Regions from separate parts of the Homo sapiens genome. Here regions 1, 2 and 4 are each reported to be linked to region 3. The links are microRNA targets in miRTarBase. Many come from high-throughput screens and were not tested one by one. Region 3 holds a microRNA gene; each other region holds the end of a gene's coding sequence.

What was found. Region 3 holds the annotated microRNA hsa-miR-196a-3p (CGGCAACAAGAAACUGCCUGAG, at 1,479-1,500, shown strand). A microRNA usually pairs through its seed, bases 2 to 8, with sites in the 3' UTR of a target mRNA and lowers its output. Matches are read on the target gene's strand: a 7mer-m8 pairs with bases 2 to 8, a 7mer-A1 pairs with bases 2 to 7 and ends in A, and an 8mer does both.
Region 1: the mRNA of GK5 is a reported target of hsa-miR-196a-3p. Seed matches in the 3' UTR shown: 7mer-m8 at 2,043-2,049 and 7mer-m8 at 2,877-2,883.
Region 2: the mRNA of CYP4F3 is a reported target of hsa-miR-196a-3p. Seed matches in the 3' UTR shown: 7mer-m8 at 1,548-1,554.
Region 4: miRTarBase lists C1orf35 as a target of hsa-miR-196a-3p. The part of its 3' UTR that is shown has no 7-base or 8-base seed match.

What each region holds. Positions count from the first base shown.
Region 1 is chr3:142,162,758-142,165,854 of GRCh38, reverse strand. It overlaps GK5 (glycerol kinase 5), which reads left to right. Exons shown (of 16, transcript NM_001039547.3): 16 at 85-3,097. The coding sequence ends at 233. Among named protein-coding and RNA genes, the nearest start is that of TFDP2, 15 kb to the right of the region's middle. RefSeq lists an enhancer at 831-1,566.
Region 2 is chr19:15,659,205-15,662,324 of GRCh38, forward strand. CYP4F3 (cytochrome P450 family 4 subfamily F member 3) reads left to right here. Exons shown (of 13, transcript NM_000896.3): 13 at 16-3,120. The coding sequence ends at 181. Among named protein-coding and RNA genes, the nearest start is that of CYP4F12, 12 kb to the right of the region's middle.
Region 3 is chr12:53,990,321-53,993,440 of GRCh38, forward strand. It overlaps MIR196A2 (microRNA 196a-2), which reads left to right and starts at 1,418; the gene lies at 1,418-1,527.
Region 4 is chr1:228,098,675-228,101,770 of GRCh38, reverse strand. C1orf35 (chromosome 1 open reading frame 35) reads left to right here. Exons shown (of 8, transcript NM_024319.4): 7 at 298-432; 8 at 517-1,040. The coding sequence ends at 640. It overlaps ARF1 (ARF GTPase 1), which reads right to left. Exons shown (of 5, transcript NM_001658.4): 5 at 2,559-3,096. Among named protein-coding and RNA genes, the nearest start is that of MIR3620, 3.0 kb to the right of the region's middle. RefSeq lists enhancers at 1-400, 1,511-1,750.

The DNA.
Region 1 (3,097 bases), not on the chromosome of region 3:
CCAGCAACTCGTATAGGTTTTTGGATAAACTTTATTGGACTCATGATTTGCCTTAAAATTTGAGGATAATTTTTTTATCTATAGGGTTTTGGACTGACAAGGAGGAACTAAAGAAACTGAGACAAAGTGAAGTGGTTTTCAAGCCACAGAAGAAATGTCAAGAATATGAAATGAGTCTGGAAAACTGGGCCAAAGCAGTGAAACGCTCCATGAATTGGTATAACAAGACATAACACTAAATGAAATGATCAAAACCATAGGTAGCTGGTTTATGTGACGTGCAGATGAGATGAAGCTCAGGGATAACCCATATGACAATGACTAAGAGGAGAAAATTTTAAATAAGCTTCATAACTTAAGAAGCATTGCTTTTAAAAAAACAAAACGGAACAAAAAACTCTTATTTTTTTCCCCTAAACCATGGTAAGGCAGCAATACCTCAAAACTTTATATCTTCTATTTTGTAGCAAATTCCAAAGGACATTAGTCATTTCCAACCACATTTTGACAGTTATGGGTCCTCTTCCTTTTTATACTGGGTCAGTGGTACATAGGAACATAATGATTTACCATCCAAGCTAATAGTTCTGGGTCAAGTACCATGCACATATTGTTCCAAAATTATGTGAAACGTATTTCTTTAATTCTTTAAGTGGGCTATTTGAAGTACATATAGCTAAAAAGAAAGAATAACTGAGAAAATGTGGAATTTTGAAACATTAATATTTTATGTTTAAAGCCATAATTTCCTAATATTATATCCAAATATGAGCTTAATATGTCCCTCTCAGATAAGCTTATGAGATAGTTAATGCTTTCCTTTACTGGTCTTAAAGACACTGCCTTAATTTTTCCTTGTTCAACCAAAATCTGAGCATTCTTTCTATGTTGAAAACACTGAAAAACTAATTTTAGTTAATGAACTAGAAAGAATATTGATTTTTAAGAAACAGAAAAATACTACTTATTTTCCTTCTCAAATAACGTTTCTTTCAAAAACTTCTGGCTGAAGTATAACATGCTGGTAGTTAACATAAATCTTGTCTTTCTCTTGTTCTTTATCTTTCTTTGTTATTTAGATGCTTGTATAAATGTCTTTTGTTTTTATTAAGTGCCTAATTGACAGAGCTTAATTTGAAGAAGTGCCCTAATTTATTGACCACTTAAGAATTGCCTTTATTGGGGTATTTTATTTGTTCCTGCGTCTTTTTGATGTTTGTTCAGTCTACTCATCCCTGTGAGTATGTGTGGGGGACAGCTGATAGAAGGGAGGAGAGTGTGTCTATGCTCAGGATTGCCCTTTAGCCACTCAGCCAGAGATCCACAGGGAGCAACAAGGACAGTTTCACATGCTTAGACTTTCTTGGAAGAAACAGTGAGGAGGAGTAAGTCGTGAGTAGTGTCAAGCTGGATGTAGAATTGTCCTAAGGCAGTTGACCCCACCTTCCAACATGTTTTCACTTTATTTGCCCCTCCCTACATTTGGGTTAGGTTCCATTTGGATTTGCAGCAATAATGACTTTATTTCTCTCTTGGTCAGGATTTGGCACATAAAATCCTTTTATTATAGAACTAGCTATTTTAGTTACATAGTAATGTAACTAATGGAGAGATTTATAGAGAATTTTGTTTTTGCTGTCATATATGTCCATTTTGGAGACAGATATGATAGAACTAGAAATTAAGTTGCATTTCTGCAAGTGCCATTTGAATGAACTTCAAGTATCTTCTTAATTATTAAATTTTCTGATGAAGGCATTGTAACAAATATATAGTATTATTAAATCTAATTAATATTTGGAAATATTAATAAATAGGTATTTTATTTACTGTAAAAAGTCAAACTTCATTATGTAGATAAATCTTATTCTTTTCATTCTTTCCCCTGTTTACATCCTTTTTACAAAGCTTAGTCACCAATTAAAGCTTTCCTATCAAAATCACATGGAAGCTGCTCTGTTGTTTTACTGTTACACATTCTGTTTCTCAGTGGGTGTAATTTTTTTTTCTTTTTCTTTTTTTGTAGAGACAGGGTCTTGCTGTGTTGCCCAGGGTAGTCTTTAATTCCTGGCCTCAAGTGATCCTCCCACCTTGGCCTCCCAAAGTGCTGGGATTGCAGCCGTGAACCACTGCACCCAGCCAATGGGTGTAATTTCATAGGAAATAATTCTTTTTGTCAGAATGTACTGAATTGTAATATTAATACCTGAAAATTTGTTAGTTCACTTCTTTTCCACGTTCTTCTTTCCCAACATATAACCACAAAATAAAGGATAAATACTTTGGGCTGTGTGCAGTGGCTCATGCCTGTAATCCCAGCACTTTGGCAGGCTGAAGTGGGCGGATCATTTGAGGTCAGGAGTCCAACCTGGTCAAACACGGTGAAACCCTGTCTCCACTAAAAATACAAAAATTAGCTGGATGTGGTGGTGCAAGCCTGTAATCCCAGCTACTCGGGAGGCTGAGGCAGGAGAATTGCTTGAATCTGGGGGGTGGAAGTTGCAGTGAGCCAAGATCATGCCACTGCACTGTAGCCTGGGCAACAGAGCGACACTGCGTCTCAAAAAAAAAAAAAAAGGATCAATACTTTTCAGATAATGTTGGAAAGTAACTTTGAATGTCCCTCATCGGAATTGAGCATCTCCTCAAGTGTCAGTGGCTATTTTTTTCTTCTGTGAATCTAAAAACTAATATTTTATTTTTAATATTTGTGGCCATTTTTAGTGATAAGACTTTAATAAATATTTTTGGACTTAACTAAAATCAGAAACATGACCACATTTGCTTTTGTGGTTGCAGAAACAGTTGATAAGATCAATTGAGCAACAAAATTGTCCTTTCTTTTTTTTTTTTTTTTTTGAGACATTGTCATGCTCTGTTGCCCAGGCTGGAGTGCAGTGGCATGATCTCGGCTCACTGCAACCTCCCTCTCCTGGGCTCAAGCAGTCCTCCTGCCTCAGCCTCCCAAGTAGCTGGGATTTCAGGTATACGTCACTACGCCCAGCTGATTTTTGTATTTTTAGTAGAGACAGGGTTTTACCATGTTGGCCAGGCTGGTCTCAAACTCCTGACCTTGTGACCCACCCACCTCGGCCTC
Region 2 (3,120 bases), not on the chromosome of region 3:
ACCTCCCTCCCCAAGGAACTGCATCGGGCAGGCGTTCGCGATGGCGGAGATGAAGGTGGTCCTGGGGCTCACGCTGCTGCGCTTCCGCGTCCTGCCTGACCACACCGAGCCCCGCAGGAAGCCGGAGCTGGTCCTGCGCGCAGAGGGCGGACTTTGGCTGCGGGTGGAGCCCCTGAGCTGAGTTCTGCAGAGACCCACTCTGACCCCACTAAAATGACCCCTGATTCATCAAAAGTGAGGCCTAGAATTACCCTAAGACCCTGTTCCACAGTCCTGTATTCCATCCTAGATATCTACTCAAAATAATTGAGACAAGTGTTCAAACAGAAAGACGCTTGTGCGTGAATGTTCATGGCAGCCCTATTCACAGTAGCCAAACGATGAAAACAACCCCAAGCTATATATTACCAGATGAAAGGATAAACAAAATATGGTCCATCCATACAATGGAGTATTACACAGCCATAAAAAGGAATGAAGCAGTGATCCCCACTACACTGTGGATGAACCTTGAATGCATGATACTGAATGAAAGACATCAGATGCAAAAGGTCACATAGTGTACTGTCCTTTTATATGAAATTTCCAGAACAGGCCAATCTGAAGAGATGTATAGTGGATTGGTGGCTTTCAGCAGCTGTGGGGAGGTGGGACTGAGGAGCGACTGCTAATCAGGATGGGGTTTCCTCCTGGGATGGTGAAAATGTTCCGGACCTAGATAGTGATGAAGGTAGCACGACACTGTGAGTGCACTAAATGCTATTGAATTGGACACTTTAGAATGGTTGAAATAGTGATTTTTATGTGAATTCTACCTAAACATGCTATTACAGCTCATATATACTTTTTCCATCTGGATTCTTCACAAAAGAATATGTTGTGAGCATCTTTCCATGATATTAAATCATCTTAGGAAACATTATTTTGTGTTCTTCAAAATGTGCATGTTAAGTATTCAAATCAGTCTTAAATTTTTAAAAATATGTAATTTTAGAAAATAATTTAAAAGGTTTTGTTTCAGTTTGTAAGATTTCTTTTCTGGCACTTTAATGGCTTGAGGTATCATTATCAGTTACAAATTGAGTTATTCTTCATCAAATGACTTTTGGAGTAGAGATTTTATTTTTATAGCAATAGATGCACAGATATTCCTGTAAGATACAGGTGTGGTTAGACACTTTTCTAGAACAGGCATGCCCTGCAAACTCCACAGACACTGACTGTTTTTGTCCTATTAAGAAGTAGACCACTGAGAAGGGAGAAGGTGACATTTTAGCTTTCCCAGGTAAAAGTGGTTTTCATCCTCACACCAATTTTATGGACTGGACGTTAACTCTCTTGCTCAAGGTCACTCTGAGTGGAAGAGTGGGGATAAATCTGGTTCGTTTGGCATCAGAGGCCATGACTTTTCCTACCACAGAAGTAATTTTCAAAGTAAGTCTCTGCCCTAGGCACATCAGATCACCTGGGGACCACTCCAGAGTGAGTAGACAAGACTTTGACAGGGGTGCCTAATTTTTTTTTTTTTTTGAGATGGAGTCTCGCTCTGTTGCCCAGGCTGGAGTGCAGTGGCATGATCTCAGTTCACTGCAACCTCCGCCTCCTGCGTTCAAGTGATTGTCCTGTCTCAGCCTCCCAAGTAGCTGGGATTACAGGCACCCACCACCACATCCAGCTAATTGTTGTATTTTTAATAGAGGCGGGGTTTCGCCATGTTGCACTGGCTGGTGTTGAACTCCTAACCTCAGGTGATCCACCCGCCTCGGCCTCCCAAAGTGCTGGGATTACAGGCCCGGTCCAGTTTGATAGTTTGTTATCATGTTATACGTACACTTAGAATAATGATCCAGCCATCTCATTCTAACAGCAATGAGAACTTAGGCTCCCCTCTCTACTAAAATACAAAAGTTAGCTGGTCATGGTGGTGCGGGCCTGTAATCCCAGCTACTCGGGAGGCTGATGCGGGAGAATCACTTGAAACCCACAGGCGGAGGTTGCAGTGAGCTGAGGTGGTGCCACTACGCTCCAGCCTGGGGGAGGGGGACATAGCGAGACTCGGTCTCAAAAACAAAACAAAACAAAACAAAACAAAACAAAAACAAAACAAAACAAAACAAAACACTGCCAAACTGTTTCCAAAGCATCTGCATCGTGTTTAATTTCCATAAGTAACGTATGAGAATTCTAGGTCCTCCAAATAATTAGCAGTCCTTCGTAGTGTCAGTTTTTGTTTCAGCCTTCCTTATGGGTATGCTGTGGCATATCCCTGAGATTTTAATTCGCATTTTCCAGTGACTAAGGGTGTTGAACCACTCGTGCCTTCCTGTGCCTATTTGACACTCCTATATTTTCTTTGGTGAAGTGTCTGTTCAATCATCTGCTCATTAAATTTTCCTTCGGTTGTTTGCCTTCTTATTGTTGGATTTTGAGAGTTCTATGTACAAGTCCTTTGTCAGTCGTGTGATTTGCAAGTCTTCTTCCTAGTCTCTGAAGTTTCTTTCTTTCATAGAGCAAACGTTTTAAATTTTTATGAAGTAAGACTTCTCAGTTTTATTTTTGGTGAATTATGTTTATACTGCCATATATAGGAACTCTTTGCTTAACTGGAGGTCATGGAGATTTTCTCCTACATTTTCTTTTAAAAGTTTTATAGTTTCAGAGTTTACATGTAATTCCATAATCTCCATTTAGTTAAATTTTGTATGGGGTGTGAACTGTGGTTTGACTGTTTTCTTGTATATGGATATCCAATTGTTTCACACAATTTTTTTGAAAAGAATATCCTTGGCAGGGCACGGTAGCTCACACCTGTAATCCCAGCACTTTAGGAGGTCAAGGTGGGCAGATCATGAGGTCAGGAGTTTGAGACCAGCCTGGCCAATATGGTGAAACCACGTCTCTATTAAAAATAGAAAAATTAGCCAGGCGTGGTGGTGTGTGCCTGTATTCACAGCTGCTTGGATGGCTGAGGCAGGAGAATCGCTTGAACCCAGGAGTCAGAGGTTTCAGTGAGCCGAGATTGTGCCACTGCACTCCAGCCTGGGTGAAAGAGCTAGATTCTCTCTCTCAAAAAAAAAAAAAAAAAAAAGGAAAGAAAGAAAGAAAAGAAAAGAAAATCCT
Region 3 (3,120 bases):
CCCCCGAAGAGGCTGAGTGTGTGGATGTGTGTGTTTTGTGTTTGACTCATCTCCTAGAGCCTTTCTAGAACGTCTCTTGGCGGGTTTAATGTAAGTGAGAGACCATAACGTTGATTTAAATATTATCCAGGTGACCACAATAAGTCAAGGTCATAAAACAGTAATGTCAGGACGGTCTTGGTGCGCGCGAGAGGTGGATTTTATGATCTGCAAATATAATGTGGTGCTGCAGTAAAAGATGCATTTAAAGGTGACTGGAGGAGGGAAAGAGGCAGAGAGCAAGCTGCAATCTTGAGGAGCAGACGGATCTGATTGCCTGGGGTGCTGGGCTGGGCGCACCCCACTGCTGCTGGGGGTCACCCCAAGAGCCCCCCACCCATCCAAGGAAAGGAATAAACTTAACCGCTGGAGGGGCATGAGGAGCTCAGCCCCCCCAACCTCGACAGCAGCTAACAGAAACGCCAGGAGCAGCAGGAGGAGGAGGCAGCGACAAGGTAAGAGAAGCGGTTTCTTGTTCTTCTCTTGGCGGCGGAGTGGGGATGAGCGGTGTCCCCAGGTGTCCGGCGTGCAGCGGACAGAGCCTGGAGGAAGGTGTTTAGGGCATCCGTGCTTGCCGAGAACCCAGGCTTTCCTAGTGGCCGCTGGCAGCGGAGGGCAGCGACTGGGAGCTCCCTCTCCTTCCCTCCCGGGCCCATTGCCATGGGGGTTCCACAGTTAAAGGGATAAATTGATGGTTTTTGGCTTCTTTATCTTTTCGGGCACTTTGGGTCTCCTCGAAGTCGACACTCTGGTCTAGGTGTTGCTCAGTCTGGTCGTCTGTTGGTGGGGGAGGAGGAGTACAGAGGGTTGAAGCTTGAAGCTTAGGTTTTCCTGCTTTTCGCTGGTTTGGATGTGAGCCTCGTCCAGCCTCTTGTTCCCTGTGCTCCCTGGCTGTAACGTTTTGCCAGGCAAGTGGCCTGATTGGAAGTGGCTCCAGAGCACAGGGCTATGATTCAGCTACCCACATTCGCTGAGAAGCCTAAACCGAGCTGAGAGGGAGAGGATCAGAGGGAGTCTAGCAGGAGAGTGCAGGAGAGCCAGATGGACAAGACAGGGGACCCAGCTCCAGAGTGGAAGGAAGATCCAGCTTCCCCCAGGGCCAGGGCCAGATGCAGGGGAATAGCTCCACTGCGGTGCTGGGGGTGGGGCAGGTATTTGGCCGCCAGTGGTCCCATTTCACCAGATTTTTCCTGAGCAATTTGCTTAGACCAGAAACTAATGAAGGCAGTCAGACCCCTTACCCACCCAGCAACCCAAAGTCTACTCTCTAGTCCTTAGGGAGGTTGTGGGGGCGGAAAGGGGGACGGGGCTGAATTTCTTCCTTCCCCAACCCCCTTCCCTTCTCCTCCAGATAGATGCAAAGCTGAATCTCCCGCCCTGCTCGCTCAGCTGATCTGTGGCTTAGGTAGTTTCATGTTGTTGGGATTGAGTTTTGAACTCGGCAACAAGAAACTGCCTGAGTTACATCAGTCGGTTTTCGTCGAGGGCCCCAACCCACCTCTCCCACTCCTACCCTCCCCAGTGGGACTGCCCCACTGCCCCCTCCCAGATAGGGCAAAGTGGGTGCAGACCAAGGAGGACAAGCTGTGAGTGGGGTTGCAGAACAAGTCTGGAGAACCCTGCTTTATGCCGTCCTCTCAACCTATCCCAATCCCTGTGATTAAGGGAGAGGAGTCTTTCCTGCAGCTATTGTCTCCTGGGCCCAGCTGATGGAGACAGACAAAGAGGGTCCAGCCAATTCCAAGGAAATTCAGGAGTTTGAGTAAGAGGTGGCCTGGCGGGCCAGCTCAGTTGGGCAGCAGGGTGGGGCAGAATTATTAGCAGAAAGAGGAGCACAGAAAGAGAAGACGGTCTCTGGAATGGTTAGCCTCTCCCACCTACCACCTCCAGTCGACTGGGGCTCAAGATTCTCCTTAGAAAAGTGGGGTACCTGGAGGTTCCAAGAGTTGGGGAACTCTGAGCGCCAGCCCAGCCCTTTCCCCTTCCCCTTCTATAGCTCCATCTCCAGGGGAAGGACATGTTTGGGGTGTTGGTAGGTTAGAGGAAAGCCATCAAAGTCCAAGTAGAACCCCTCACACACGCACACGCACGCAACTGGGAAACATCAGGGCAAAAACCTGACTCTGGTCTCTGTTTAGTCGTCTGTGGCCTGAAGGCCTCAGTTTCTGTGGCTGTGACTGTCAGGCAGCTGCCTGTCTTTGCACTATGTGGAAACATCTGGGTGAACAGAGGCTGCCCGTGCCCACCATTGCTATGTTGGTGGAAAGGTTGTTGGCTGATGCCAGGGGGAGGAGGGGAGGAGAATGGGGTAGAGGAAAATCTGAGCAGTGTGAAACTTTGCAAAGCTTCCTCTCATCCTTTCCCCCTTGGTTCTTCAATTCTGGCCCTGGTTGCTACAGAGAAAGTTCTCAAAAGAGGTTTCTTTGCCTGCCTGCGGGCGGAGTTGGGGGGGGGGGAATAAATGGGGGAGGGGTTATGGAGACTGAGGAGATACACCCCTGTTCTCAGAGATACTGGGGAAGAGAAGCCAAAAGAAGGTCAGGTTCTTGGTTCTCTTACTTTGAAATTATTATGATTATTAAAACATTATAAACGTCTAGACAGGGAAACAAAATTATGTCCCTGTAACAAAATATATACAGAGTTCTATATTCTCACAGTCATCTGCTGGGAGGGATATATGTGACCTTGTATGAGTGTAGGGCTCTGTTTCTGTCTCCCCTAGGCTCTCTTAAATACCCTGTATGTATTTATACGCATACACATTTATTTTTCCCCTCTCTTATGCGAACATATTTGTTTTGACTCCCAAGGAAGCTGGAGGAGAAAATGGGAATAGAATTTCCTGTCTCCCTAGCTGGATTGTTGGTCTGTCTGTCCCCCATCCCTTTGTGAGAGAAAAAATTTCTTCTCTTGGAGAGAAGTATTCAAACCTCTCTATGGCTCCCAGGGAAATGGGGAAGTTTCCAGAGAGTCAGGCCAGCTGGTGGGAAGCAGGCAAGGGATTCCCCTAGTTTGGGAGCTCCTAGCAGCCTTTGAGTCTTCAGGCTGCCCCAGGCACACAGTCAGTTGGGGCAAAGC
Region 4 (3,096 bases), not on the chromosome of region 3:
CTGGGCCTGACCCTAAGAGTGGCCTGGTGGGTGCAGGTAGGAAGGTGTCAACCTGCCAAGGGCACGGCTGGGGTGGGGCAGGGGCGTGCTGTGGAGATGGGGATATTGCATCTGTTTCTAACCCACGTAGCCACTGGCCACGTGACTACGTAACTGAGGAGTGGAATTTGTAGTTTGATTTAACTGATTTAAAGACGCACTTGTGGGTGGTGGCTTCATCTGGATGGGGCCTGCTTGTGTTCACTCTCTTGGCTTGCAAGACTAGGGTCTGAGGCACACCTTGTATCCTCCTTGTAGTTGTGAGAGCCACAGGAAAAGCAAGAAGGAGAAGAAGAAAAAGAAAAAGAGGAAACACAAGAAAGAGAAGAAGAAGAAAGACAAAGAGCACAGGCGGCCAGCTGAGGCCACCTCCTCTCCCACATCTCCTGAGAGGTATGCCCTGGTCCATATCTGCCTCTTGGGGGTGGGGGCCTGGTTGACTCCTTCCGAGTGACTGACTGCCATTGGTCTCCCCAGGCCCAGGCACCACCACCATGACTCCGACTCCAACTCCCCCTGCTGTAAGAGGAGGAAGCGGGGACACAGTGGGGACAGGAGGAGCCCGTCTCGCAGGTGGCATGACAGAGGCTCTGAGGCCTGATGGCTGGACCCTGCTCACTGCTGTTGTGGGACCCTGAACCCTCCCTTCACCTTGCTTGCCTCCTGCCTCGGAAGCTCCTTGGGTGTGGGTGAAGCCCGAGGCTGCTCCTGTGGAAGTGGCTCTGGGCACCAGCCTGTGGGGCTAAAGACTTGACAGCTAGCTCTGGAGCAGCCGGCTTCCTGGAAAACCTCCAGGTTTCGCATACCAGGGATGGCCCCTGGCTTGGCCTGCGAAGGTGAACCTGCCCAGATTTATCAGTAGAGGCTGGACTCCCTCTGTGTCCTGCCCATGGTTGCAGCAGCCATGGGCCTATGAGCGGTCTAACTGTGGCCAAGTATGGTGACCTCTATTTTTCTTTATATTGACTCTTTGTATTTCAATAAATATATTTTAAAAGGAAGGTATATCAAATTGGAAGGTCAGTATCAGGGGTTAATGAGATCCCACTGGAACGTCGGAGCTGGGGTCTGTCTCCCAGGAGTCTGAGACCTGGTGATTTTTTTTTTTTTTGAGTTTCACTTTTGTTGCCCAGGCCGGAGTGCAATGGTGTGATCTCAGTTCACTGCAACCTCCGCCTCGCGGGTTCAAGCGATTTTCCTGTCTCAACCTGAGTTGCTGGGATTACAGGCGCTGCCACTACGCCAGGCTAATTTTTGTTATTTCTTAGTAGAGACGAGGTCTCACCGTGTTGGCCAGGCTGGTCTTGAACTCCTGACCTCAGGTGATTCGCCCGCCTTGGCCTCCCAAAGTGCTGGGATTACAGGTGTGAGCCCCGGTGCCCATCTGATTCTTAATGTCCTGGGGGAATGTAGTCCTCCCATGTGTGCCCAGAGCCCCCACCAAAACCCAGGGAGGGCTGAGGCCCTGGAAGCAGGTGCTCAGCTGGCAATGTGGGAACCTGGGGCAGGGAGCCCTATCCCTGCGACAGGTGAGGTCAAAGACTGCAGTCTGTGGAGGCACAGCCTCAATTGGGTGTGGGGGTTGGGGAGCTCCTCCAACTGCCTGCTACCCCAACCCTCAGCTCCGCTTCTCCAGAGGCAGTGGGCTGGGTGTCCCTTCTGCCTGACCCTAAGAAGGATCAGGGCTGTTCAGGATGTGTGCGGCCACCAGGCTGCATGGCATAAAGACAGATGGCACCTGGGCTGCATCACAGTTCAATGCAGCGTTGCAGTGTTGGGATCAGAGGCATGAGCTCCCTCACCTGGCCTGTTTCTGATTTCAAGGGAAGTTATGCAGACCTTCCTCAGGGCCCTGGCCAAGGTGTAGCTTGTGGCTTTGACCTCTGCCCTCACCCTCGGGTGGCTACTGGAGTAGAGACTGTGCTGTCTTGGGTGCTGTCAAGGGGGATGAAGGTTGGGCCACCTAGCCAGGGCAGCCCTCTCTTTTGGGACTCTGCCCAACAGAAGGCAGACCTTAGACCTGCTGATGGCCCCATCCCAGAAACAGGTACCCCCAGACTGGCAGCCCCCTGCTGCATGGCATCTTGAGGAGAGGTGGGGGCTGTGCCCACTCAGGCAGGGACCATTCCCTGGTTGGCACAAAGCCCTATGTATGCTAGCAGTGGCCCTGCCCCATAGCCAGCTATACAAAGTGGGGTTCAGCAGCAGGCCGATGGAGGGAAGGACGGAGGCTGAGGTCTTCCATGGTGCCTGCTGACCCCTGCCCTGTATGGCCCAGGTCTCATTGGCTGGGCCCGACAGGACTGCAAACGAGATCAAGGTCACTGTGGGCAACCATGCTGGAAGAGCCTCTCACACAGACACAGAGAAGTGCCTGCACACTCAGGAGGGAACATGGGGAGGGTGTGGACTGAGGTGGCGGCCCTAGGCAGTCACCTGTACTTCCTAGAGTAAAGCTGGCTGATGCACCCACCATCTCCTGGGGGCAGCATGCCTGTGTGGAAGCACTGGAGAGCCGGTGAAATAGTTAAGAGATTTTATTCTAATAGCTATAATTACAGTGCTTGTTTGTCGAAATGAAAACTGAAAACAAGTATACAAAACAGTTGATTACTAATCGTGTATTGAAAGCAGTAAGAGGTTCCACGACACCAAATAGACCAGTTCTGAGGTTTCCCCAAGATAAATTTAACAGCTCCAGCTTCAGTGTTTATCAAAATACAAAAGAAAAAAGTAGAGGTTGTCTTTTTCGATGGCAAATCGGACCCTTGCAGGCTGAGGGAGAGAAAGCTACATCACACACAGAGGTGGGGTGCTCCCGAGGGGCTGTGGGTCTAGGTGGACCGCCTGCCCGGCTTGCACGCGCTCCTGCTGGTGAGGCCCCAGACATCCTGCCAAAGTGTCTGAGCGAGCACGAGTGTTGGGGACGACGGACCCACTCTGGCCACACGGCGACCGAGGGACAGATGGGGCCCTGCGTCCCATAGGCTGCCTGAAGGTGGGTAGGGCGGCCTGCGGCATAGTGGGGTGGCTGTGGGCTCCCAGCCTGGCCCCTGG